Regions from separate parts of the Homo sapiens genome. Here region 2 is linked to region 1. The links come from fine-mapping of genetic effects on gene expression. Tissue or cell type: pancreas. Region 1 holds a variant in brackets; the other region holds the start of a gene. All regions are shown on one strand. Distances are from middle to middle.

Region 1 (12,526 bases):
ATAGCTCAGAAAATTATAGAATTTGTTCAAATGTGATAAGTATTATGAGCAAAAAGGAAAAAATGGAGGGGCATCAGGGGTGAGGAGAGTTGCAATTTTTATTTATTTATTTATTGAGACAGAGTCTCACTCTGTCGCCCAGGCTGGAGGGCAGTGGCATGATCTCAGCTCACTGCAACCTCTGCCTCCTGGGTTCAGGTGATTCTTGTGTCTCAGTCTCTGGAGTAGCTGGAATTACAGGTGTGTGCAACCACGCTCACTAATTTTTTTCTTTTGCGTCTTTAGCAGAGACGAGGTTTCACCATGTTGGCCAGGCTGGTCTTGAACTCCTGGCCTCAAGCGATCCACCCACCTTGGCCTCCCAAAGTGCTGGGATTATAGGCATGAAACACATGCCCAGCCGGAGTTACAATTTTACAATTTTAAATAAGGTGGCCAGGGAAGCTTTCATTGAGATAATAATTGAGCAATAATTTGGAGAGGGTGAGAAAGTTAGCTCTATGGACATCTGGAAGGAACAACATTCTAGATAGAGGGAATAGCAATGTGAAAGCCTTTTGGCAGGAGAATGCTTAGCATGTTTAAGCAATGGGTTGGAGTTCTACCTGGCTCCAGTGAAGTGGGTAAAGGGAACAGTAGGAGGAGGAGTTGGTCAGAGACGTAATGGGATGGGGCATATCTATGAAGGTCTTGTAGGACATTGTAAGGACTTTGGCTTTTATTCTGAGCAAAATGGAGGCATTAGAAGGTTTTGAGCAGATAATTGCAATGATCTATTTTAAAAGGGTCATCATGGCTTCTTTGTTGAGAATCGACTTTAGAGAAACAAAGATAGGAGCAGAGAGACCCAGTCAGGAGGCCACTGCAATAATTTGGATAAGAGAGGATGGTGGTTTAGACCAGGGTGATGACAGAGGAATTGGAAAGAAGATAGATTCTACAAAGATTTTGAAGGCAAAGCCAACAGGATTTCCCAGTGAATTGAATGAAGGGTGGGAGAGAAGGCAAGTAGTGAGATTTTGGCCTGGGCAACTGGAAGAATGGAGTTTGTGCCAGCAGGCCTGGGGAAGGGTATGGGTGGATACAAGGTTTGGGGAGGGGAGATCAGAGTGCAGTTTCGGATGTGTAAGTTTCAGATGCCCATTAGACCTCCAAGTGGATCTGGTAAGACAAGCCTAATGTTGTGAGGGGTCTATGCTGGAGATGGAGATCTGGGAGTCTTCAGCGCATACGTGGTACTGAAAGCCATGAGATGGGAGATCACCAAGCAATGTAGATTGAAGAGAGAGTAGGCCAAGGATTACTCCTTGAGACCCTCCAACATTAGCAGGTCTGGGGGAAGAGGGGATTCAACAAAGGAGACTGAACATGAGTAACCGGTGATGCTGGAGGAAAACCCAGGGAGTATTGTATGCAGGAAGCCAAGTGAAGAACACGTATCAAGAAGGAAGGAGTGATCTGTTGGGTGATCTGCTGCTGAGAGGCCAGTAAGATGGGAAGTGATTTGGCAACACAGAGATCATTGAATCCCCTGACACCAATGGTTTCCGTGTATGGTGGGTTGGGGTGAAATTTTGCGGAAAAGGGACAGGAAAGAAGGAAAATATCTGGCTGGAAAACTGAGGTGAAGACAACCTTTTTTAAAAAAATAAAGATTATCATCTGTAAAGAAGGTATATTTTTGAAAATAAAGATTAGAGCAATAACACCATGTGTGTATGCTGTGGAATGATATAGTGGTGAACGAACAAAGATGTAAGAAAGAGGAAGGAGAATCAGTAGACCCTTGAGGAGGTGAGGAGGTAGAATCTAGTGCATAAATGGAGAGATTGGCTTTAGCTAAGGTGGATAGATGTGATGGTGAAAGTGCCTGCAGGTTCCCCCATCTGATGATTTCAGTAGGATGTGAGATGATCAGCTGAGAGTGGGAATGAGGAGGGAGGCATTAGGGATCTCAGGAGAGAGACGTAGTGAAAACAGTCATCTGGAAGAACGGATGGACTCAGGAAGGGAGTGTGATTGCTGGGCAGCATTAAAGGCTCATTTGAGAGCCATGGTCATGAAATTAAAGAGAGGCTCGTGAGCAAAGCTGCACGTTTTTCTCCAGCCATGTTCTGCTCCATGTCTGTATAGAGCAGGTGGAGAGTTAGCTTTTTCCATAGTTGTGGGTTTACCAAGAGAGTTCTACGAAGTAAGAAAGAGATAGGTCAAGAGTATGTGAAGGGAGTAGTTAGGATGATTGACTATGGAACTTAAACTGGATAAGGAGAGGAACGAGGACATTACAGAGGTGGGAGACAATGAAAAGACGGTGGGATCAACAGATTTGTGGTCCCAGACAGATAAAAAGAAATGATTTCATTGCAATGTTTTACTTGAGTTGCATTCATTTTTGTTATCCCCCTTTCTTAAAGGCAAGTGTGTTGGTTTTCTATTTACCCTAATAATAGTGTCTCCTTTTTAAGTAAATAAAGGTATAGGTAGTATTCAACTGGGGCAAAAATCTGAGAGGTGGTCTACAGATAGCCAATGTATAAGAAACACTGGGTTAGATCTTCAAATTTCAACAGAGAAAACTCTACCTAGCCCAAAGTGACCAGAAAAGTATTTGGTCACAGGCAGTCCTACCTCTTGGGAATGAAGTGAATTAAAATGTTTTAACCCAGTGGTTCTCAGACTTTTTGACTTCAGGACTTTTTACACTCTTGAAAATTATTGAGGATTCCAGGGAAGTTTTGGTTATGTGGGTTATAACTATCAACATATTCAGTATTAGACATTAAAACTGAGATATTTAAAAATGTATTAATTTATTTAGAAATAATAAACTCACATGTCAACATAAATACCTTAATTAATTAAATAATTTTTTTCTTCCAATTTTTAGTTTAGTTTCGGGGGTACATATGCAGGTTTGTTATACGGGTAACCGATGTATCATAGGGGATTGGTGTACATATTACTTCATCACCCAAGGAATAAGCATAGTTCCTGATAGGTAGTTTTTTGTCCTTAACCTTCTCCCACCCTCTGCCCTCAAGTAGGCCCTGATGTCTATTGTTCCCTTCTTTGCGTCCCTGTGTACTCAGCATTTAGTTCCCACTTGTAAGTGAGAACATGTGGTATTTGATTTCCTGTTCCTGTGTTAGTTTGCTTAGGATAATGGCCGCCAACTCCATCCATGTTGCTGCAAAGGACATAATCTCATTCTTTTTTATGGCTGAATGGTTGTCCATGGTGTATCTGTACCATATTTTCTTTATCCAGCCCACTGTTGTTGAGCATCTAGGTTGATTCCATGTCTTTGCTATTGTGAAAAGTGCTGCAATCAACATATGAGTGTATGTCTTTATATATTTTTATGAAAAATAATTACTTTCCGAAAGAAAAAGGAAGAGTGGCATTGTTTTACATTTTTGCAAGCCTCTCTTTTGCCTGGCTTAATAGAAGATAGCTGGCTTCTCATATTTACTTCTGCATTCATCAGTTGTGACAACATGTGTCTCCAAAACTCTGTTGTATACTTGTGAGAAAACAAAGGCAAATCAACTCTTAGGATTACTATAAAAATACTTTGCCCTTGTGGCTTCCCTGAAAAGGTCTTGGGGACCTACTTTGAGAACTGCTAAGCTGTTGAATAAGGAAGTGGGAGTGGGAGACAGGTTTTTCAAATCGCTGAAGGCCAATATTCACAAGTGTGGAACTCTGGACAGGCCTGTGAAGAAGCATCCAAAATACAGGGTCTTGATCAGCAAAGCATCTCTCGGCCTCAGTTTCCTCATCTGTGAATGGAGATGTCACCCCCTACCCAGACCATCCCATGGGGTGTGGTGAGAACAAAGGAGACCATCAACACAAAAGCACTTTGAGGGTTTTTATGCTCTGCAAATGCCATGTCTAAAACAGCCAAACACCCCCCTCCTACCCATAAAAATACAAACAACATTCTTTGAACTGGCAGCCTCTTAGCAGGTTTACAAGGACTCCTTGGCTTTGCTGATGGCTGTTTGGATTTCCTTTGCAGCTGGCCAGTGGAGTGCCCCAGCTGGAATACCACTGTCTGGGTGGTTTCTATGGAAACCTTTCCTCCCAGCGCCATGTGAATGACCACGAGTGGCACTCCATCCTGGTGGAGGAGATGGACGCTTCCATTCGCCTGATGGTTGACAGCATGGGCAACACCTCCCTTGTGGTCCCAGAGAACTGCCGTGGTCTGAGGCCCGAAAGGCACCTCTTGCTGGGCGGCCTCATTCTGTTGCATTCTTCCTCGAATGTCTCCCAGGGCTTTGAAGGCTGCCTGGATGCTGTCGTGGTCAACGAAGAGGCTCTAGATCTGCTGGCCCCTGGCAAGACGGTGGCAGGCTTGCTGGAGACACAAGCCCTCACCCAGTGCTGCCTCCACAGTGACTACTGCAGCCAGAACACATGCCTCAATGGTGGGAAGTGCTCATGGACCCATGGGGCAGGTGAGGGCTGGGGTGCCAGGCTGAACCCAGGGTTTATCCCAGAAGGCTCTTCAGGTGGGAAAAGCATGTCAGGGTGGAGATCTCAGAGCCTCCTGGTTCCAAATTTCTCTCTCTTCCCCTAACTTGTGAGTAACAGGTTGGAATCTGCAATATCTAGACTAGGGGAAGCCAGGAGTCTTCCTTCCCTCTCAACAAAAACTATCTTTCTACTTCTGGGGGGATGAGGGAGGATATGAATGGGGACCTCAGGGGCAGAGGGTTGAATTAATCACATACCTTAGTGTCATCACTGGTCTATGCACAGTCTCCTTCTCATTCCCCTTTAACTTATATTCCACTCCCTTCCCCTTCCCTAACACTAGAGGCAAACATTTACAGTTTTTGAATGAGTTCTTGCAAAATACATGTTGTTTTTCATATGCTTGAATTTCCAATTTATATAAGTGGTATATGTTGTTTACGCTTTCGCTCAGCACCATATTTTTAAGATCTGTCAATGCTGCCATGAGCAATTCTCATTAATTGCTTCTAACTGTGGCTCAGTACTCCATGATGTACACGCACTCACATTTTCCCTCTCCACCCTCGCACTCCAAACACCCATCTCCATCATCAATGCTGCAGGGAGCATTCTCCTATATGTCTCCTTGTGAAGCTGTGTGAGAGTTTCCTTCACACACACACACCCGACACCCAGGGGTGGAAGTCACAGGCTCACAGTATGCAAATAATTATTTTGACTAAATAGGGATACATTGCTCTCAGCATGGCTATTCTATACATCACATGCAACATGAGCGGTTCCTGTGTACCCACATGCCTCTCAGCCATCTATTCTATACATCACACACAACATGAGAGGTTCCTATGTACCCACATGCCTGTCAACATGTGACATGCCTGTCAACACTTCGCATTACCCCTTTTTCTGATTTTTGTCTGGCTAATCATGTCATTTCTACCTGCAAAATATCCAAGGAATCCATCACTTCTCTCTTTCCCCATTGCTGTCCCTCTGTCCCAAGCCCCCATCACCTCTCACCCTGGCACCAGCCTCCTCCCTGTTCTCCAGCTTCTATCCCGGCCTTCCACCTTCCAGCAGGAGCCGGGGTGATCTTTATCCAGCACAGACCTGTGCATGGCACTCTTCTGCTGAGAACTGCTCAGTGGCCGCCATGCTGCTAGGATAGAGTCCCAATCCCTGCATGTGGCTCCTGCACCTCCCAGGCCATAGTTCAAACTCTCCCTGTCCCTCACCAGGCTGGCCCACCCTGGTGTGGTTTGAGTTCCTTGACCATGCCACACCCTTCCCTAGCCTTTGCACGCACTCTTCTCTTCCGCCTGAAACACCTTTCTCTTTGCCCTCTAGCTTCTTGCCTAGCTAATTTCTACTCATCCTTCAGATCTCAAATGAAATAGCTCCCAGATCCCTAGAGTAAGCTAGCCTCATCCCCCACCCCTCCCAGCATTTCCCTTCAATAAAATTAATTTTATTATAATTACTGAGATACTGATATTATAGCTAGCTGTCTAGGTTTGAACCCCAGCTTTGCCATTTACTGGCTTGAGCAAATTCTGTCCATTCTCTGTGCCTCCTTTCCTCATCTGCCATCCCTTTGTACCTGTCCCCTGATGAGGATGATGACAGTCACCAACCTCAGGGTCATCGTGAGGATCAAATGAGCCAACACAGGAAGATCCTTGGAACAGTGACTAGCACTAAGTTAGTGTCTATGGTTGTTATCCTGTTTATTACTGTTCTTTAGGTGACTGTTGTCTCTGGTGGGCTGTAAGCTGTTTGAGGGCAGGGACCAAAGTGCTCTTGGTTCAGCAGGGCACCAATGCCCAGCACGGTATTGGGCACAGAGGGGAGCAACCAAATAAATAAATGGTAACTGAACGGCTGCACAAACACACCAGTCTGCCAATGCCAGGTCTCCTTTAACTGCTAGGCCAGTGCGGTCTCTCACCTCCCTTCTTTTTCTCCTAGGCTATGTCTGCAAATGTCCCCCACAGTTCTCTGGGAAGCACTGTGAACAAGGAAGGGAGAACTGTACTTTTGCACCCTGCCTGGAAGGTGGAACTTGCATCCTCTCCCCCAAAGGAGCTTCCTGTAACTGCCCTCATCCTTACACAGGAGACAGGTAATCCCAGGAGAGGCCACCTGCCATGGGCTCCTTGTTAGGGAATGCGCTCTGTACTCTGACCTCTAGAAAGTCCAATGGGAGGCCAGGGGAGAGTGCTGCAGGGACCTGGCTTCTAGGCCTTTTCCATCTGTTAGGGCAGTGGTCCCCAACCTTTTTGGCACCAGGGACCGGTTTCATGGAAGACACTTTTTCCACGGACCAGGCAGGAGAAACGGGAGATGGTTTCAGGATGATTCAAGCACATGACATTTATTGCACACTTTATTTCTATTATTATTACATTGTAATATATAATGAAGTAATTATACAACTCACCATAACGTAGAATCAGTTGGGAGCCCTGAGCTTGTTTTCCTGCAACTAGACAGTCCCATCTGGAGGTGATGGGAGACAGTGACAGATCGGGCATTAGATATATGCTCCTTATAAGGAGCATGCAAACTAGATCCCTTACATGCACAGTTCACAACAGGGTTTGTGCTCCAGTGAGAATCTAATGCCCCCAGTGATCTGACAGAAGGCGGAGCTCAGGTGGTAATGCTTGCTCACCCATGGCTCATTTCCTGCTGTGCAGCTCGGCTCCTAACAGGCCACCGACCAGTATGGGTCCGTGACCCAGGGGTTGTGGACCATTGTGTTAGGGTGTCTCTCTCTAACCACCTGCATTACAACACTTCTGGAGGAGGAAGCTGCTTATTAGAGATTTCCCCAGCCCTATTCTGAACATACTGTCTCAGAATCACAAGCTGGGGCTTAGCAATCTGTACATTTAACCAGCTCCTCAGGTAGTTCTGGTCCTTGCTGCAGTCTGAAAATGGCTGAAGTGCTTATTCTCTCACTCTGGACCTGAACTTCCCAGTGACCTGGGGAAAATGGTTCCACTTGGGCAGGTGCTGCTGTGCCTGGAACCCCACTGCCAGCTGTCTGTGCCTCATACTGTGTGGGGCTGTGGCAGTTGCAAGGGAAACTGTCATTCCTAGAATCCTAGAGAGAAAGAGACTTTGACAATTATCTGGTTTTAGGGCTCCCAAACTTGGGAGCCTTTAAAGAATCATGAAAGAGACATGAAAAATATAGATTCCAAGATCCAGCCTAGACCAACTGAATCAGAATCTCCAAGAATGGGCCTAGCTTCTATTTTTAACAAGCTCTCAGTGGATCCCTTTGCTATTAGCCTGTGTATAAGAGCCAGTGATGTAGTTCACCCACTCATTTTACAGCTGCAGTAACTGAGGCCCAGGCAGGGAAAGGGCTTTCCCATGATTACTCTGGGTATGCTGATGACCCCAGTCCTTTTTTTTTTTTTTTGAGAAGGAGTTTCACTCTGTCGCCCAGGCTGCAGTGCAATGGCACAATCTCGGCTCACTGCAACCTCTGACTCCTAGGTTCAAGCCATTCCCCTGCCTCAGCCTGCCAAGTAGCTGGGATTACAGGCATGTGCCATAACACCTGGCTAATTTTTGTATTTTTAGTAGATACGGGGTTTCACCATACTGGCCAGTCTGGTCTTGAATTCCTGACCTCAAGTGATCCCGCTGACTCGGCTGCCCAAAGTGCTGGGATTACAGGCATGAGCCACTGCGCCCAGTCGACTTCAGTCCTTTTTCTCAGCAACTGGTGTGTCCTGCCCTGCTTTGCAGTCGGGAATGCTATTCGTTCACGAGATGTGTTGGGAGGACATTTCACAGCTGAAAGTGGTGTCTGCATTTTAAAAGAGGACCTTGGGGAAAACAACATTTAACCCAAAATAACAAACAACTGGTAGTGACATTTCGGGCACTGAGAAATGTTTTGGACTCAAATGGGATGGGGCAAACTTTCCCAATAGCCCTCAAAAGTGGATAAAGCTGGCCACAGAAGTTTCCCTGGAGCTTCACACCATGGAATGCCAAGCTAGAGGTACCCTGAGAGTTCGCATGCTTTCTCTGAGCAAGTTGCCCATTGTAAGGTGGCTGATCTGTGCAGGACCACGTTGGCTCCTGTGACCTCCTGGTGAAGCACAGCAGGGAACATTGGTGCCTGGCTGCTATAACTGGGCAATGCTGACTTGTATCTGGAACCCTGACATCATTGCTAGAGAGTCGATGTCTCTACTGCAGTGATATGGGAGGAAATCCGACCTCATGATAGAGAGTGTATACAGTGCCTAGATCTCATTGCTGGAAAAATAATAGACATTCCCAGATCCTAATGGTCACAAATGAGGATGTAGCTGAGACCCATACTTTACTGGTGGAAGGTGGAAAGTTCTGATGTTGATATGCTTGATAGTTACTTTTTTGGGGGGTGAAAAACGGGAGATGGTAGGTTTTGGGGGGAGCAGTCTCTATCCCATAGATCTCTGTAAGAGGGGACATGGAAAGGGCAATTTCATGACTTGGCCCCCTGACTACTCTGTCTCCGCAGGTGTGAAATGGAGGCGAGGGGTTGTTCAGAAGGACACTGCCTAGTCACTCCCGAGATCCAAAGGGGGGACTGGGGGCAGCAGGAGTTACTGATCATCACAGTGGCCGTGGCGTTCATTATCATAAGCACTGTCGGGCTTCTCTTCTACTGCCGCCGTTGCAAGTCTCACAAGCCTGTGGCCATGGAGGACCCAGACCTCCTGGCCAGGAGTGTTGGTGTTGACACCCAAGCCATGCCTGCCATCGAGCTCAACCCATTGAGTGCCAGCTCCTGCAACAACCTCAACCAAC[C/T]GGAACCCAGCAAGGCCTCTGTTCCAAATGAACTCGTCACATTTGGACCCAATTCTAAGCAACGGCCAGTGGTCTGCAGTGTGCCCCCCAGACTCCCGCCAGCTGCGGTCCCTTCCCACTCTGACAATGAGCCTGTCATTAAGAGAACCTGGTCCAGCGAGGAGATGGGTCAGTATAGCCAGAGACGCTTAGCCTCTGGGATTGATGGAAGTGGGTGGTGGTTCTAAACACTCCGTTATCTGAGGCACAGGCATTTTTAGCTACCACGCATCCAACCCTTTGGGATGGGACATGATGAGATGTGTTCAAGATTACAGGGCACGGATGCTGGAGCAGATACCAGGTTTCTGAGGCTCATTCTATTGCACTCCTTTAAATTCCAAGTCACTCCATGGGATTGAGGTTCATGACAGAAATGTGTAGACCCTGGATAGGGTTGGGTAGAACCCTTGGAGTGAGAAGGGGGCTTCTGCACATTTGTGCTTTTCTGGGAAGGGAAAGGAGAAGTGGTCTAAGCTTCTGGTTGCCCAGTGTGGAAGTGCAGCAGCCTTGGGCCAGACCTGGCTGACCTAGAGGGGGAATATCACCTTCTTCTCATCTTTGGCTCAAAAGGGGGTGCATTAGTAAAGCACTTCATGTTTTGGCATAATCATTAGCAGTTATGATAGGTATTTTCACTATGTGTCAAATACGGAAACCGAGGCCCATCAAGATGCAGTGACTTGTTCTAACTAACCCAACTATTCAGTAGCAGAGGCAGGGCTAGGACCAAGGGCTCCTGGTCTCCTGATTTCCGAGCCACATCTCATTTCATCACTCTCCATGATAGACTCCATCACACCTGTGAGTGAGTCCAAACTGTGTGTGTGTTTCCTTCAGTTAAGGGGATGAAACTCACCAGTAGGACTTGGGATGGAGTTACTGTATCCAGCTGTGGGGGTGGGTTGCATGGAGACATCCAAATCCTTCCCTTGTTCACTGACCCTCAGATTAGTGGCAGGGATTTGCAAGATGGGCTGGCCTTAGGTCAAACCTCTAGCCTTGAGCTTGTCCCATTGGATTCTATGTTATCAACGTAAGCCAACAGAGACAACCTGCACAGATGGGCCTATGCCCACCCACTCCCATCTCCACCACTCGCTAGGTTATATATAGTTGCTATAGAGCCAGCTGAAACCTTCCGGGGAGAAAATGAGCTCACCCTATCTTGCTGTTCCCTTTCAGTGTACCCTGGCGGAGCCATGGTCTGGCCCCCTACTTACTCCAGGAACGAACGCTGGGAATACCCCCACTCCGAAGTGACTCAGGGCCCTCTGCCGCCCTCGGCTCACCGCCACTCAACCCCAGTCGTGATGCCAGAGCCTAATGGCCTCTATGGGGGCTTCCCCTTCCCCCTGGAGATGGAAAACAAGCGGGCACCTCTCCCACCCCGTTACAGCAACCAGAACCTGGAAGATCTGATGCCCTCTCGGCCCCCTAGTCCCCGGGAGCGCCTGGTTGCCCCCTGTCTCAATGAGTACACGGCCATCAGCTACTACCACTCGCAGTTCCGGCAGGGAGGGGGAGGGCCCTGCCTGGCAGACGGGGGCTACAAGGGGGTGGGTATGCGCCTCAGCCGAGCTGGGCCCTCTTATGCTGTCTGTGAGGTGGAGGGGGCACCTCTTGCAGGCCAGGGCCAGCCCCGGGTGCCCCCCAACTATGAGGGCTCTGACATGGTGGAGAGTGATTATGGCAGCTGTGAGGAGGTCATGTTCTAGCTTCCCATTCCCAGAGCAAGGCAGGCGGGAGGCCAAGGACTGGACTTGGCTTATTTCTTCCTGTCTCGTAGGGGGTGAGTTGAGTGTGGCTGGGAGAGTGGGAGGGAAGCCCTCAGCCCAGGCTGTTGTCCCTTGAAATGTGCTCTTCCAATCCCCCACCTAGTCCCTGAGGGTGGAGGGAAGCTGAGGATAGAGCTCCAGAAACAGCACTAGGGTCCCAGGAGAGGGGCATTTCTAGAGCAGTGACCCTGGAAAACCAGGAACAATTGACTCCCGGGGTGGGCGAGAGACAGGAGGGCTCCCTGATCTGCCGGCTCTCAGTCCCCGGGGCAGAGCCTGATTGACTGTGCTGGCTCAACTTCACCAAGATGCATTCTCATACCTGCCCACAGCTCCATTTTGGAGGCAGGCAGGTTGGTGCCTGACAGACAACCACTACGCGGGCCGTACAGAGGAGCTCTAGAGGGCTGCGTGGCATCCTCCTAGGGGCTGAGAGGTGAGCAGCAGGGGAGCGGGCACAGTCCCCTCTGCCCCTGCCTCAGTCGAGCACTCACTGTGTCTTTGTCAAGTGTCTGCTCCACGTCAGGCACTGTGCTTTGCACCGGGGAGAAAATGGTGATGGAGGGCAACAAGGACTCCGAGGAGCACCACCAGGCCTCGGGCCCCAGAGGTCCCACTCCTCAGCCTACACGCAGAGGAACGGGCCCACCTCAGAGTCACACCACTGGCTGCCAGTCAGGGCCTGCCAGGAGTCTACACAGCTCTGAACCTTCTTTGTTAAAGAATTCAGACCTCATGGAACTCTGGGTTCTTCATCCCAAGTTTCCCAGGCACTTTTGGCCAAAGGAAGGAAGGAACTAATTCTTCATTTTAAAAATTCTTAGGCACTTTTTGACCTTGCTGTCTGGATGAGTTTCCTCAATGGGATTTTTCTTCCCTAGACACAAGGAAGTCTGAACTCCTATTTAGGGCCGGTTGGAAGCAGGGAGCTGGACCGCAGTGTCCAGGCTGGACACCTGCCATTGCCTCCTCTCCATTGCAGACGCCTGCCCATCAAGTATTACCTGCGGCGACTCAACCCTATGCATGGAGGGTCAATGTGGGCACATGTCTACACATGTGGGTGCCCATGGATAGTACGTGTGTACACATGTGTAGAGTGTATGTAGCCAGGAGTGGTGGGGACCAGAAGCCTCTGTGGCCTTTGGTGACCTCACCACTCCCTCCCACCCAGTCCCTCCCTCTGGTCCACTGCCTTTTCATATGTGTTGTTTCTGGAGACAGAAGTCAAAAGGAAGAGCAGTGGAGCCTTGCCCACAGGGCTGCTGCTTCATGCGAGAGGGAGATGTGTGGGCGAGAGCCAATTTGTGTGAGTGGTTTGTGGCTGTGTGTGTGACTGTGAGTGTGAGTGACAGATACATAGTTTCATTGGTCATTTTTTTTTTAACAATAAAGTATCT
Region 2 (15,788 bases), 63 kb after region 1:
TGTAGTCCCAGCTACTCGGGAGGCTGAGGCAGGAGAATGGTGTGAACCCGGGAGGCGGAGCTTGCAGTGAGCCGAGATCGCGCCACTGCACTCCAGCCTGGGCGACAGAGCGAGACTCCGTCTCAAAAAAAAAAAAAAAAAAAAGCTGTCACATGGATTAGACTTGTTATTTGGGGCCTCAAAGGTCAGGCAGGGCTAGGATCAGTACGTGGAGAGTCAAGAGGGCTGATTTTTTGCTAGGTGTAAGGAAGAACTTTCTATCAAAGACAGATCTGTTCCAAATAGAACAGATCACTCTGGGAGAAAGCCTGTTCCCTTATCCCTGAAAAAATCCAAGCAAAAGCCCTTTCTCAGAGCAGTTATGTAAGGATTCAAGCATCAGACAGTGGGCAGAGCCACTCCCCGGAGTTCTTTCTATGGCTCTTTTTGGAAACCAAGGCCTCCTCCTCCTGCTCTCTGTCTGTCCCCATGAGTGCTGGCATCCATGGCCACACTGCCCTTAGGCTCCCTTTGATGAAATCTGATAGCCAAGTCTATTGCTGCAATTGCCAGTTCCCGCCCTATGGGAGATTTTAATAGTACCTGTTAACTGTCTAAATGAGGGTTGTACTATGTGAGAGTTGAAGGCAAGCTTGTCCTTCAGATTACTGAGGACAATAAACAGAACACAAAGTCCAAATCTCCATTAGATATTTAGACTCAGAAGAGTGAGCAACTGAGTAAAAAAAGTCTGCAAGTTTGATGGCCAAAAAAAAAAAAAAAAAAAAAAAATTTAAGTGTACAAACCTTAAAACATTCCTTTTTTTTCCTTATGTAACTATTGTTTTAGCTGTATAAATAGACAAGTGTTGCTCTTCAATCTACAAAATATGCCATTTTTAGATGGGCACTAAAAATGAGCAGGTGGAATCACTTTGTGCAACGGATGCAATATGGAAAATGTATGTGCAAACTGAATTTTTATTTTTAAAAATAAAATAAATTTTATTCTATTTTTAAAAATAAAAATTTGTAGGTGTTAAATTTTTCAGAAGTGGGCAATTTTAAGGGGAATTCTACAGTGATTTTTTTTTTTTAAGGCAAGGCCAGAAATTTTTCTAATAAATTCAAATGCTAATGTTCCCATTTTAACAGCATGGGATTCAGGACTCAGGAGAACATAATCTGGCTGTCATTCTAATCCCAAAGTTGTTTTCTTATTTTGATATAGAATTGAGAAAACTGCATTAGATGATTTCTAAGTACACTTTCACTTCTAAAGTTTCAGGATTCCAATTTCAATTTTTTAGTGACTGGGTTTGTTCAAAATAAAGGAGGATTAAGATCAATAGATGGTAACATATTCTGAAGTTGTACCATCCAGTACAGTAACCACTAGCCATAAATAGCTATCTTACACTTGAAATACACTTGGGTAAAATTGAAATGTGCACACTAGATTTCAATGAACTGGTAACAAAAAAATTGTGAAATATCCCATGAATTAATAATCTTTATACTGATTATATATTGCAATGATAATATCTGGGATATATTGGGTTAAATGAAACATACGTCAAGGAAAAAAAAATAGATTTCTGGGCCCAACTTGATTCCACCTTAGCATTTTATTTTATTTTATTTTATTTATTTATTTTAATTTATTTATTGGAGATGGAGTTTCATTCTTGTTGCCCAGGCTGGAGTGCAGTGGTGCGATCTTGGCTCGCTGCAACCTCCGCCTCCCAGGTTCAAGCAATTCTCCTGTCTTAGCCTCCCGAGTAGCTGGGATTACGGACATGCGCCACCACAACTGGCTAATTTTTTTCTATTTTTAGTAGAGACGGGGTTTCATCATGTTGGCCAGGCTGGTGTCAAACTCTTGACCTCAGGTGGTCCACCCACCTTGGCCTCCCAAAGTGCTGGGATTACAGGCATGAGTCACCATGCCCAGCCTATGTTTTTTTGTTGTTGTTTTTGTCTTTTTGTCTTCTTTTTTTTTTTTTGAGATGGTGTCTCCCTCTGTTGCCCAGGCTGGAGTGCAATGGTGTGATCTTGGCTCACTGCAACCTCCGCCTCCTGGGTTCAAGCGATTCTCCTGCCTCAGCCTCCCGAGTGGCTGGGATTACAGGCGTCCATCACCATGCCCAGATAATTTTTTGTGTTTTTAGTAGAGATGGAGTTTCTCCGTGTTGGCCAGGCTGGTCTCAAACTCTTGACCTCAAGGGATCCACCTGTCTCAGCCTCTCAAAGTGATGGGATTACAGGCAAGAGGCGTTTTATTTTTAACTAGCTTCCTAGGTAATCTTGATTATAGGTAGATTTATATAAAGCACTACAAAAAATATATGATCTTATTATGATAGGTACACCCTAGGCCTCACCTCCTACCAGAATTCACGCATTGGCGCCCCTTGTTTGCAAGCTAAAAGTGTCATCCGTTATTCTGAAACAATTACATTGGTTTGGACTTTGGAACTCAGAGCAGCGGCAAATTCCCCAGATGTATTTTCTCCTCTCTGTCGATGGAATTCTAAAAACATGAACAAAGACACAGACTGTGTTGCTATGTGTGGTCTACAGTGAGGGAAGTAAAATGGTTTGGCTTCTACATAATTTGTTTTTAAAACAGCATCAGATAGAATTCCATCCAACTTACCAGAGCAGAACATTCCATAAATTGAGACTTTTTCCTGTAGGAGTCTGATGCTAGAACAGCTACAGGGCAGCTGCTGACCTCAGCAGGTTCTGCACAAAGCAGCTGCTGAACAGGCAAACACGCACACTTTTACTCCCAACCATGAAGATCACTAAATGTTAGGGCCAGGTATAGCTTTAGAGAAGGTCAAGCTCCAGCTTCCTTCTTAGGGGTCAGAAAACCAGGGCCCACACACAAAGGCTGACTCATCCAGGCCCCAGGATGAGTCAAATCAAAGATTTGAGATGACAGTCCAGCAAACCAGCATCCCAGTCCAGTATTCTTTCTACCACACCTTAAATTATATACCCTCCTTAAAATCTCCCTGCGAACAAAGCTGGCCCCAGAGCCTGGGGCAGGATTAGGTCTGCAGCGGGTATTCTGCATAATAAAAAGCACCTGAGTTTGCAGTCTGGTAGTGTGACTCTGAGCAAGTTAATTCATCTCCCTTTGCCACAGTCTCCTCATCTGAAAGATGTCATTAATAACATCTACATCACAATATTGTTATGAAGATAGGAGGAAAAAATAAATAAATGTTAGATATGTTGCCTGGAACATAATAAACCCTCATTAATGATAGCAATTGTGATTATTACTACAGAGAAGTTCAAGGACAGAAAGTGAGAAAGTTCACTAAACAAAGTCTGCAGTATGGGCTCCATTTAAAACTCTGGATTGTGAAGCCAGGTCCCTACCTTGGAGATGGTGATCTAAGTGACATGAACATCTCAGTAACCCACAGACAGATTTCCTAACTTCATGGAAAAGGAAAGCACAGAGTGGCTTTTCCTACTAGAGATGGTCATTAAGGACTAGCCCTGGGGCCAAGCATGGTGGCTCACATCTGTAATCCCGGCACTTTGGGAGGCCAAGGTGGGAGGACTGCTTGAGCTCAGGAGTTCAAGACCAGCGTGGACAAAATAGTGAGACCTCATCTCCAAAAAAATAATAATAATAAAATAAAATAAATAATAAGTAAAAAAAGAACTGGCCCTGGGTGTCAAGGCTTCCAAGAGAAATATTTTGGGGGATAAAAGAAGAGACAACCCCAAATGCAGCACCGTGTGGTTCCTATTTCAGCCTATTTACAATGCCCCATCCATCGGCCCCCATGCCCATTAAGTAGAGGCTACCTTTATGTGCTCATCACAGTAAGGCCTGGCCAAAGGAGAGAGGTACAGGATTCTTCCAAGGCCTGGGTGGAAGTAAACAGACTCAGTGAGAGCTTCTTCTATGGGAAACAAGAGAAGGCCTGGATGGAAATAAACGGATTCCATGTGAGTTCCTCTATGGGAAAAAGAGAAAAGCTGGCCTAGGTGTGAGTAATGCTAATCAGTCATGCACTTTGGAAGCGGTTATCAGCACCAGGCCAGGAAAAGCAGAAACAGAAGACTATTCACTCATCTGACCTTTGAAGCGATATCAAGCATTTAAAGAACTGAGATACTCACTGGAGGGGAGGTGGTGGTGATAAAAAGAAAGAAAAAGCAGGAGTACTTAATATGAGAATAGTTACCTGAGACAAGGTTATAAATAGAAACAAAGTAATCACAAAACTGGACATCAGCTCCATCCACTCTACATGCCAGTAAGTGGACATCTGCTCCATCCATCCCACATGCTAGTAAGTGGACATCGGCTCCATCCATCCCACATGCTAGTTAAGTGGACACCAGTTCCGTCCATCCCACATGCTAGTAAGTGGACATCTGCTCCATCCACTCTACATGCTAGTAAGTGGACATCTGCTCCATCCACTCTACATGCTAGTAAGTGGACACCTGCCCCATCCATCCCACATGCTAGTAAGTGGACACCGGCTCCGTCCATCCCACATGCTAGTAAGTGGACACCGGCTCCGTCCATCCCACATGCTAGTAAGTGGACATCAGCTCCATCCATCCCACATGCTAGTAAGTGGACATCAGCTCCATCCATCCCACATGCTAGTAAGTGGACATCTGCTCCGTCCACTCTACGTGCTAGTAAGCGGACATCTGCTCCATCCACTTTACATGCTAGTAAGTGGACATCGGCTCCATCCATCCCACATGCTAATAAGTGGACATCTGCTCCATCCACTCTACATGCCAGTAAGTGGACATCGGCTCCATTCATCCCACATGCTAGTAAGCAGACATCTGCTCCATCCACTCTACATGCCACTAAGTGGACACCTGCTCCATCCATCCCACATGCTAGTAATAAGTGGACATCTGCTCCATCCATCCCACATGCTAGTAAGTGGACATCTGCTCCATCCACTCTACATGCTAGTAAGTCCAGTCCTAGAATGTCACAGACTCTTGAGTTGAAAGAAAACTTAAAATTTTGTCTAGTCCAACCCTCTACCCAACAATCTAATTTCATCTACAACATCCCCGAAGTAATTGCCCAGAGACGATTACCTCCAGTGACAGGGAGCTCCGTGCTCAGTGTTCTAATACAGGAGACCACTAATTCTTTGAAAGTTTTTAACACTTACCAAACACCCTTCCCTTATGGCACTTTCATCTATTGGTCCCAGTTGTAGTCTCCAGAATATTATAAAATAAATGGAATCCCTTTTTCTTACACCGCCTTTGGAACAGAGAAAACTCTGAGCACTTCGAACTGCCACAAGAGGAGGCTGAATGAACAGCTACATGCCTTAAAGGGAAAACAAGGACTCCAGAGCAGGCGAATATAAACGATACAATCAGAAAACAAAGGGAGAGGCTTAAAGCTGTTATCAGCACAGCCTCTGCTGCACGTAGCCTCCATCCCCAGACAAACACAAAGTTTGTCCCTTTCCACTTGACTTCAAGAACATTTTTAACGAAAACATGTTCTAAATGTACAAGTAAGTTAATTACTGTAAACGAGGCTCTAGACAAGAGTCAGAAGAGGGCCCTGATCATGTTTAAAATAATAACAGACAGTTAAAAATCATTTTCAGCTGTTAGTATTTAGCTTAGACATAATACAGAGATAGGAAGAAAGAGGAGGAGGATTTTATAGCAACAGAGGAATAAGCAGAGGAAACTGCTTCCTACACAATTAGATTAAGTCTTGTTGCAAGGCTGATACTCAGTGTACACAGCGGGTAAAATCTCTCGGAATAAAAAAACAAACAGACCCTGGTCAGGGGCACTGGCTCACACCCCTGTAATCGCAATACTTTGGGAGGCCAAGGTGGGAGGATCACTTGAGCCCAGGAGTTTGAGATCAGCCTGGGCAGCATAGTGAGACCTCATCTCTATTTAAAAACAAACAAACAAAAAAACAAGCCTAGAAAGATGCACAACATCCAGATCACAGCAGAAGGGGCCCTTAAGAATTCAATTCCATCACTGTCTAGACTGAGAAACCCAAACGCGAGTCACTTAAGGTTGCCAGGTAAGCGGCAGAGCTAGGACAAAATATCCTGATTCCCCAATCTCTGTTCTGTCCATTGCACCATGATGCTATCTTCAGCAAAATTCAAATAACTGCAAAACGTCCATCCAAATAAGCAATCCCAAATCTGACAAGTTACAGAAAAAATAAAGCAAAGGTCTTTACATTCTTCAAGTTAACGTCAGGGCTCTCCACAACCTCGGCTCAGCCACCTATCTTCCCAGAAGCACATTCCGATTCATATTTCATATTTTGGTGTGACTTACATAGAATGCAGGAAGGTTAGAAACCAAACCTACAGAAGGATGAGTTTGCAGAAAAATAATGAACAAACAGGGAACCACACCCAGAGCAAATCCAACCCCAGCGGTGGAAAATGCAGACAGCTAAAAAGGGAGAGGACTAAAAGAGAAAGGGACAGAAAGGAGTGCCTTTTCACAGGTGAAGTTTCCCGCAGGAGGCGGTGTGGCGAAAAGCAAACAGCTGCTGAAGCTTAGGAACATTTGCATTCTAGTCGCAGGTCTCCGGGTCTCCGATTAACTCACTGGATGACCTTAGGCAAGCCCTTACCCCTTCCCGGAGTAAGGGCTCAGTTTCTCCAACTGTCCTAGGAGGGAGCTGCACCAGACGACTTCCCAGCGTCCTTGCAGTTCTGACCCAAAGACCCATTATGAGCCTGTCTCAAGCAGCGCTCCCGCAGCGGGCAAGACATTTGCTGGAAACGGGGAGACCTGTGCGAAGCGTGAAAGACGCCCTAGATGGTCCTTTGGGTTATCTTCACCATCTACCCCAGTTTCCCCCACCTGTCAGTCAAACAGGACGGTGAGATCCCAACCCCACGAGGTCAAGGGAGATAGCGCGAGGGACAAGGGATCTCCACGCTTCGCCCAATTCACAGAGGGGTGTCAGCGTCGTACCGCAGCTGCGGCCCGGGGACGCCAAGGAGTCGCGGACCCACAGCCCGGGCGGATCCAGTGCCTGACCTGGAGCATCTGCCACGCCGGGAGGAAGGCGAGGTGGGTCCTGCCCAAGGCGGCGAGCGCCGCCAGCCGGCAGCCAGTGGAGGAACTCACTGCTCGGGTTCTGGCCCCAGCTCCGGCTCCGGCTCTGGCTTCAGCACAGCCCACCCTTCCCGGGTTCAGTATCAGCCCCTCGCCATCCTCCTTTGCTGCCCGGCAGCCGCTTCCGGACCTCATCACGTGATCCCACCGCCCACGCCAGAGGCCGAGGTCACGTGCTCCCTTGAGCGGCCGCGCCTTTTTTCTCACTGAGCTCCGGAGCTCTGCTCCACAGCACCACCTGGCGACCTATTACTGCCACTGCTGGAAGGACTATGTTCCTGGGCGCTGGGGACTGCGAATAGGAACTGAACAGGGCATTGATCTTGGGCATGGGGCAGAGTCCAGTCGAAGAGCACTGTCCCTTGAGTTGTGGGTTTGTGAAATATTGCTAATTTTTACACTGGCTGTATTTTCTTTTACACATCTCGATGAGTTTGTATTGCTTTTATAATAAGAAATATGCATATTTTTAAAACTTCCAATTTTTCAGAAGCATACACAAACTATCATCTGTGGTTGCTACTGGAAATGGAACTGTGGGGTAGGGCAACATTATCTTTTAATACATTCAAATTTTTAAAGTAACATTTTTAAATGGATGGCAACATTTCAGTATTGTATTATCTAGGCTTCTCCTTTTACCTCCTTGTTACAGACTTTTCCTTTAACAATTATGTAACAAATAGGCTTCAAGTCAAAAACTGTCACAAGAGACAGAGAAGATCATTGTTTAATAATAAAGGGGTCAATTCATCAAGAAGACACAACTGTAAATATATATGCATGCAAAATTGGAGCACCTAAATACATACAACTAATATTAATGGCCATGAAGGGAGAAATAGATAGCAACACAATAGTAGGAGGGTCAATATCCCACTTTCAACAATGGATAGAGCAACTAGAGAGAAAATAAGGAAATAATGAACTTGAATTGCACTTTAAACCAAATGAACCTAACAGATATATACAGAACTTTCCATTCAACAGAAACAGAATACACATTTTTTCTCTAACACACTTGAAACATTCTCTAGAATAGACCATATGCTAGTCCAAAAAACAAGCCTTAAATTTAAGAAGATTGAAATCATATTAATATTCTTTCAGACCATAATAATATGAAGCTAGAAATCAATGACAGGAGGAATCTTGGAAAATTCACAAATATGTGGAAATTAAACAACACGCTTTTTTTTTTCTTTGAGACAAAGTTGCGCTCTTATTGCCCCATCTGGAGTGCAGTGGTGCAATCTTGGCTCACTGCAACCTCTGCCTCCTGGATTCAAGCGATTCTCCTGTCTCAGCCTCCCAAGTAGCTGGGATTACAGGCACGTGCCACCACGCGCGACTAATTTTGTATTTTTAGTAGAGACGAGGTTCACCATGTTGGTCAGGCTGGTCTCAAACTCCTGACCTCAGGTGATCTGCCCACCTCGGCCTCCCAAAGTGCTGAGATTATAGGTGTGAGCCACCATACCCAGTCCTATGCTTCGAAACAACCAGTGGGTCAAAGATGAAATCAAACGGGAAATTTAAAAAATATTTTCAGACAATTGACAATGGAAACATAACATACCAAAGCTTATGGAATGCAGCAAAAGTAGTTCTAAGAGAGAAGTTTATAGCAATAAATGCCTACATTAAAAGAGAAGAAAGAGACCAATTAAATAGTTTAACATTATACCTCAGGAAACTGGAAAAAGAAGAGCTCACAAGACCCAAAGTTAAAAGAAGAAAAGAAAGAGCAGAACAGAAATAAATCAAATAGACAACAGAAAAAAAAACAGACAAAATCAATAAAACTAGAGTTGATTTTTTGGAAAAAATTAAATTGACGTACCCTTTGCTAGTCTAAGAAAAAAAAGAAGACTAATAAAATAAAAAATGAAAGTGAAGACACTACAACAGAAGCTTCAGAAATAAAAAGAATCATATGGGGCTATTGTGAACAATTATTTGCCAACATATTGGATAACCCAGATGAAATGGAGAAATCCCTAGAAAAATACAACCTACCAAGATTGAAATCAGGAAGAAATGGAAAGCCTGAACAGACTAATAACAAATAAAGAGATTGAAGATGAGACAGGGACTATCTGACTTTCTGGTTTTCTGTTTAAACTTCCCAACAAGACCAGATGGCTTCACAGCTGACTTCTACCAAACATTCAAAGAAGAAGGTTTGTTACTAAACTCTTCCAAAAAATGGAGCTAGAGGGAATACTTCCAAACACATTTTATGAGGCCAGCATCACCTTGATACCTAAGCCAGAGAAAGACGCCACAAGAAAAGAAAATTACAGGCTGATTTCGCTAATGCACATTGGTACAAAATCCTCAATAAAATATTTGCAAACAGAATTCAACAACAATCAAAAAAATTATGTATCATGACCAAGTGGGATTTATCCCTGGCATGCAAGGCTGGTTTAACATACACTAATCAAGCAATATAATACATCATATTAACAGGATGAAAAATGAAAACCACATGGTTATCTCAATTGGCCTGGCAAAAGCATTTGACAAAGTCCAACATCTTTTCCTTCCCTAACCCCCACCCCAACATACCTTCTTGATAAAAAAAAACTCTCAATAGTTTAGGTATAGAAAGAACATTCCTCAACATAATAAGGTCGTTTATGAAAAACACACAGTTAACATTTTAATTAATAGGGAAAAACTGAAAGCTTTTCCACCAAGATCCAGTAGCAGTCAAGGATACCCACCCTCACCACTTCTATTCAACATAGTACTGGAAGTACTAGCAAGAGCAATCAGCCAAAAAAGCAAAAGAAAGAAAGGCATCCAAATCAGAAAGAAAAAAGTAAAATTATCTTTATCTGCAGGTGACATCATCCTATATGTAGAAAACCCCAAAGATTAAAAAAATACTGTTATAATTCATGAATTTAGTAAATTTTCAGGACATAAAAATCAACATACATGACTGGGCTCAGTGGCTCATGCCTGTAATCCCAGCACTTTGGGAGGCCAGGGCAGTGGGTCACCTGAGGTCAGGAGTTCAAGACTAGCTTGGCCAACATGGTGAAACCCTGTCTCTACTAAAAATACAAAAGTCAGCCCAGCATGGTGGTGCATGCCTGTAGTCCAAGCTACTTGAGAGGCTGAGGCAGGAGAATTGTTTGAACCTGGGAGGCGGAGGTTGCAGTGAGCTGAGATCGCGCCCCTTCAGCCTGGGTGACAGAGTGAGACTCCATCTCAAAAAAAAATTAAAAAATCAATAATATTTTTATACACAAATAATTACCTACCTAAAAAAGAAATAAAGAGAATGATTTTATTTGTGATAGCATTAAAAAATACTCAATAATCAATTTAACCAAGGACATGAATAGGGTGTACACTGAAAACTATAAAACAATGATTAAATAAATTGAAGAAGACACAAATAAATGAAAAGATATCCCATGCACATGGATCAGAAGAATTAACATTGTGGAAATGTCCATACTATCCAAAGCAATATACAGATTCAATGCAATCCCTATCAAAATCCCAACGGCATTCTTTACTGAGATATAAGAAACAATCCTAAAATTTGCATGAGACCACAAAAGACCCTGAATAGTCAAGACAATTCTGAAAAAGAAAAACAAACTGGATGCATCACACTTCCCGATTCAAAATTATATTACAAAGATATAGTAATCCAAACAGTATAGTACTGGCACAAAAACAGATATGATAGACCAATGGAACACAATAGACAGCCCAGAAATAAATTCAAACATATATGGTCAACTAATTTTAAAGAAGGGCATCAAGAGAACACAATAGGGAAAAGACAGTCTCCTCAATAAACGGTGCTGAGAAAACTGGTTTTTATGTGAGAAAGAATGAAATTGGATGTTTATCTTACACCGTACATAAAAATCAACTCAAAGTGGATAAAAGGCCTAAATGTAAGATCTGAAACTACAAAACTCCTAGAAGAGAACATAGGGGAAATGCTCCTGGACACTGGCCTTGGCAATGATTTTTTTGGATATCAGACCAAAAGCTCAGATTACAAAAGCAAAAATAAATAAATAGGACTATATCAAACTAAGAAGCTTCTGCACAGCAAAGGAAGTAATCAACAAAGTGTAACGGCAGCTTATGAATTGGAAAACATATATGCAAACCCTATGTCTAATAAGCGCTTAATATCCAAAATGTATCAAAAACTCATATAACTCAGCAATAGAAAAACAACCCAATTTAAAAATGGGCAAAGGACCTGAATAAACATTTCTCCAAAGAAGAAATAAAAATGCTCAGTGAGCATATGAAAAAGTGTTCAACATCATTAATCATCAGGGAGATGCAAACCAAAATCATTATTAGATATCACCTCATACATGTTAGGTTGGATATTATCAAAAAAGTCAAAAGACAACAAATATTGGTGAGGATGTCGAGAAAAGGGAATTCTAGTACACTGTTGGTGGGACTGTAGACTGGTGCAGCCATTATAGAAAACAGTGTAAAAGTTTCTTTTTTTAAAAAAAACAGTATAAAGGTTTCTAAAGAAATTAAAAATAGAACTACCATATGACCCATCAATCCCCTTTCTGGACATATACTCGAAGGAAATGAAATCACCACCCCATAAAGATATCTGCATGCCCATATTCATTGTAGCTTTATTCACAACAGCCAAGATATAGAAACAATCCAAGTGTCTATTGACAGCAGAATGAATAAAGAAACTGTGGTATATATACAAACATTTTTCTAAAAAAAGAAAGGAGTCCTGCCATTTGCCACAACATGGATGAAACTAGAGGACATCATGCTAAGTGAAATAAGCCAGACACAGAAAGAAAAAATATTGCATGCTCTCATTTATATGTGGAATCTTTTTTTTCAAGTCAAATACACAGAGATAGAGAATCAAACAGTGGTGACCAGGGCCCAGGAGTGCTGGAGGAAGGAAGTGGAGAAATGCAGCTGAGAGGATACAGAGTAGCAGATATGTAGGATCCATAAGTCTAGAGCTCAAAGGGACAACATAAGGACTATAGGTTATACAATTGTACTGTACAAACAGTAGAACAGAGGTTACTAGTAGCTGAGCAGGGTGGAAGGAAAGGATAGGGAGAGATTTGTTAAAGGATACAAAATTACAGCTAGATAGGAATCAGTTCTATAGCTCTGTAGGATGAGCATAGGTAACAATAATATAGGATGTATTTTCACATAGCTAGAAGAGGGGTTTTGAATGTTCTGAACACAAAGAAATAAGCGTTTGAGATGATGGATATGTTAATTACCCTGATGTAATCGCTGTACATTGTATACATCACTGTGTACCTCATAAATATGTATAGTTATGTCAATTAAAAATAACTTTTTAAAAATAAAAAAATCACACTGTATTTAAAATTCCTGTGAAATGAGTAAATTTTAGCTGCTCTTGCCACAAAAAAAGAAACCCCAAATAATGGGTAGCTATGTGAAATGATGGAGATGGCAATTCACTTCACTATAGTTACAATTTTACTATCTATAAGTATCGCATAACATCATGTTGTAAATGCTAAATATACACAAAAACATTTATTTGAAAAATAATTTTAAAACAAAAATTATGTTCTCAACCAAAAAATACTATTAATACAGCTACAAAATGGATGTCAAAATAATTATACATGGATAAATCAAAAAATAATTATGCTAAGCAAAAGACATTAGGAAAATATTTCATTTATATAATATTCTAGAAAATACAAAATAATATAAAGTAATGGAAAACACACATCAGCCATTGCCTGGGAATGCGGAGGAGAGACAGGAGAGAGGGTGATTATAAAGCGGCATGAGGAAATTTTCAAGGGGACAAATTTGTTCACCATCTTGATTGTGATGATTTCACAGGTGAATATATATGTTGAAACTTATCAAGTTACATGCTTTAAATACGTGCAGTTTATTGTATGTCAATTATACTTCAATAAAAGCATTAAGATATTCAGTAAAAAATTATATAATAGGTTAATATATTCTTAAAAGTTAGACAATATAGAAATATATAAATTGAAAATCCCCTTTCCCCAAATTCACTCCCCTCTCCAAAGGTTTACAGGTGCCAGCATGTGTGTATTGTTCTCCAAACCCTATATTATACAATTACAGAAATATATACGTATGTATAGAAATATACAGGTTTATGGTGTTTAAATTTAAAATCATAAATACCAGTACTTATTGTTTTGCTTAAGACTTTTACTCTTCACAATTTTCTCATTTCTCCCCCTTCTACCCACTTGTCTCCTCCACTTTCAATATGTGCAGAACTGTTTTTTCATAGGTCTTCTTAGAAGCTCTGATGTATATTAACATACATTAAATACAACCTCTTGTTTATAGCACATACTATTAAAAACTTTGCCTTAGAGTATGCACTCCATTTCTTTGCCTTTTGTTTCATTTTTTTAGAAATGAGGTCTTGCTATGTTGCCCATATTGGAGTGATCATAGCACACTACAGCCTCAAACTCCTGGGCTCAAGTGATCTCCCATCTCAGCCTCCTGAGTAGTTGGGACTACAGGTGCATGCCACTGCACATCACTAGCATGCATTCTGTTTTAACCATTGTGCCAGTGCTTCTCAAAGTGTGGTCCCTAGACCAGCATCACTTGGGAACTTGCAGAAATGCAAATTCTGGGTCCTACTCTACACCTACTGCATCAGAAACCCTGGGTTGTGGGGGCACAGCAATCTGCATTTTGAAAAGCCCTCTAGGAGAGTCTGATGCTCTCTCGTGCTGTAGAACCACTGCCCTAAAGGACAAGCTTCTGAAGGGACTTGCTTTAGCCATGTGCTAACATGTTGTGTGGCCAGCCCCTGGTAGTGACTTATTTCTGCTGAGTGGTAGAAAGTAATTTGAAGGTTTTTTTCCCCTTATTTCCCAGCTGGGTGACCTGGGCAAGACTTTTGATCTCCATTTGGTTTCATCATCAGGAAAGTGAGATTGAAAACCCTCCTTGGTTCTGCCTCCCTCCCTGGATTGCTGGAAAAGCAGATGAGATCAGGCGCTTAAAGGTTCTATATATAACATGAGGGGTTATGCTGCTGAGAGATATTAGGGAAATTAATCCTTTTGCATTCCATAGTCTTGAGGAATGTAACTTCCTTTTTTTTTTTTTAACCACTCTACCCATCCCAAGCCCTCAAGAGTACCAGCCCCTGAGATGTCATAGCAACCCTACCCAGTGTCCCCTTTCCCTCTCCTTCTCTCTTTTTGAGACCCCTTGGGTCCCTGATCCATCCTCCTGAACATTCTGTGACTGATGGCCCTACTGTCAAGCCTCTCTCTGTTAAGACCACTGCCCCCTACAGTGGCTTCTAACTCTAAAATTCTCAGGTTTTGTATCTTAAAAAATAAAAAATAAAGAAAATATGCTTACAATGTGCCAGGAACTAGTTTCTTGTTGATTGAGTCAATCCTCGTGGCAGCCCTATGAGGCATTTAGGAGATGCTGTAGGTGCCCTTCCTGTATCTCCTTTACCAGAGCTGCAGCCCCATCCCTAGCTGCGGTGAGTGTTGCCTGCTACACTGTAAAGCATGCTACACTGTTACGTAGGGATACAAAAGGCCTACCTACTTTTGTCACTATACAGAGAGCAATGCCGTTATTCACACTCATGAAACTCCTGTGGGTGGTCTGGGTAATTCTTCGCTGTAGTATAAGCATTCATCAGCATTATGATTTCAATATTTGGCAACCCAATCACAACAAAATTCAAGAATTTATTAAGTGGCACAAGTGCTGAAAAATGAATTTGAAAATTCCTTAACTTTGGAGTGGAAATTAGAAAAAATAAAATTCCTATAAAGAAGACCAAACACCATCAGATATGACATGCTGGTGCCTTAGGAGGGTGTCTCCTATAAAGTAAATTAGCACTGGAGTGGAACAGATGAAAAACAGCCACTGAAGCAAGAAATCATCAGCTCAAGTACATAGGAAAAGTGCTGGGGCCAGATCAATACAACTGGAATGTGCCTCAGGCCATGCTATTGTTTTAAACATTTCTTTTTCTTTTTTTTTTTTCTTTTCTTTTTTTTTTGAGATGGAGTCTCACTCTGTTGCCCTGGCTGGAGTGCAGTGGCATGATCTCAGCTCACTGCCACCTCCACCTTCCGAGTTCAAGCAATTCTCCTGCTTCAGCCTCCCAAGTAGCTGGACCTACAGGCACACACCACCACGCCTGGCAAATTTTTGTATTTTTAGTAGAGATGGGATTTGACCATGTTGGCCAGGATGGTCTTGATCTCCTGACATCATGATCTGCCCACCTTGGCTTCCCAAAGTGCTGGGATTACGGGAGTGAGCCACCATGTCCAGCCTGTTTTACACATTTCTTATTGTGATTTTTTGATGATTTGAAAGGAGGTAATTATGATATAATATGGTTTGGCTTTGTGTCCCCACCCAAATCTCATCTCGAACTGTAATCCCCATGTGTCAAGGGAGGGGCCTGGGTGGCAAGTGATTGGATCATTAGTGGTTTCCCCCATGCTGTTCTAGTGATACTGAGGGAGTTCTCAGATCTGATGGTTTAAAAGTGGCAGTTTCCCCTGCACTCTCTCTCTCTCTCTCTCCTGCTGCCATGTAAGACGTGCCTGCTTCCCCTTCACCTTCTGCCATGACTG

The links.
Region 2: it holds the start of SLC36A1, and the variant in region 1 is fine-mapped to the expression of SLC36A1 in pancreas (GTEx, PIP 0.96).

What each region holds. Positions count from the first base shown.
Region 1 is chr5:151,504,105-151,516,630 of GRCh38, reverse strand. FAT2 (FAT atypical cadherin 2) reads left to right here. Exons shown (of 24, transcript NM_001447.3): 21 at 4,025-4,466; 22 at 6,457-6,610; 23 at 9,020-9,477; 24 at 10,534-12,526. The coding sequence ends at 11,066. It also overlaps a transcript of SLC36A1 not described here. Among named protein-coding and RNA genes, the nearest start is that of MIR6499, 12 kb to the left of the region's middle. The variant C/T (reference allele first, on the strand shown) is at 9,310.
Region 2 is chr5:151,439,067-151,454,854 of GRCh38, reverse strand. SLC36A1 (solute carrier family 36 member 1) reads right to left here and starts at 7,252. Exons shown (of 11, transcript NM_078483.4): 1 at 7,042-7,252. RefSeq lists a cis regulatory region at 2,734 and enhancers at 2,650-2,819, 7,223-7,272.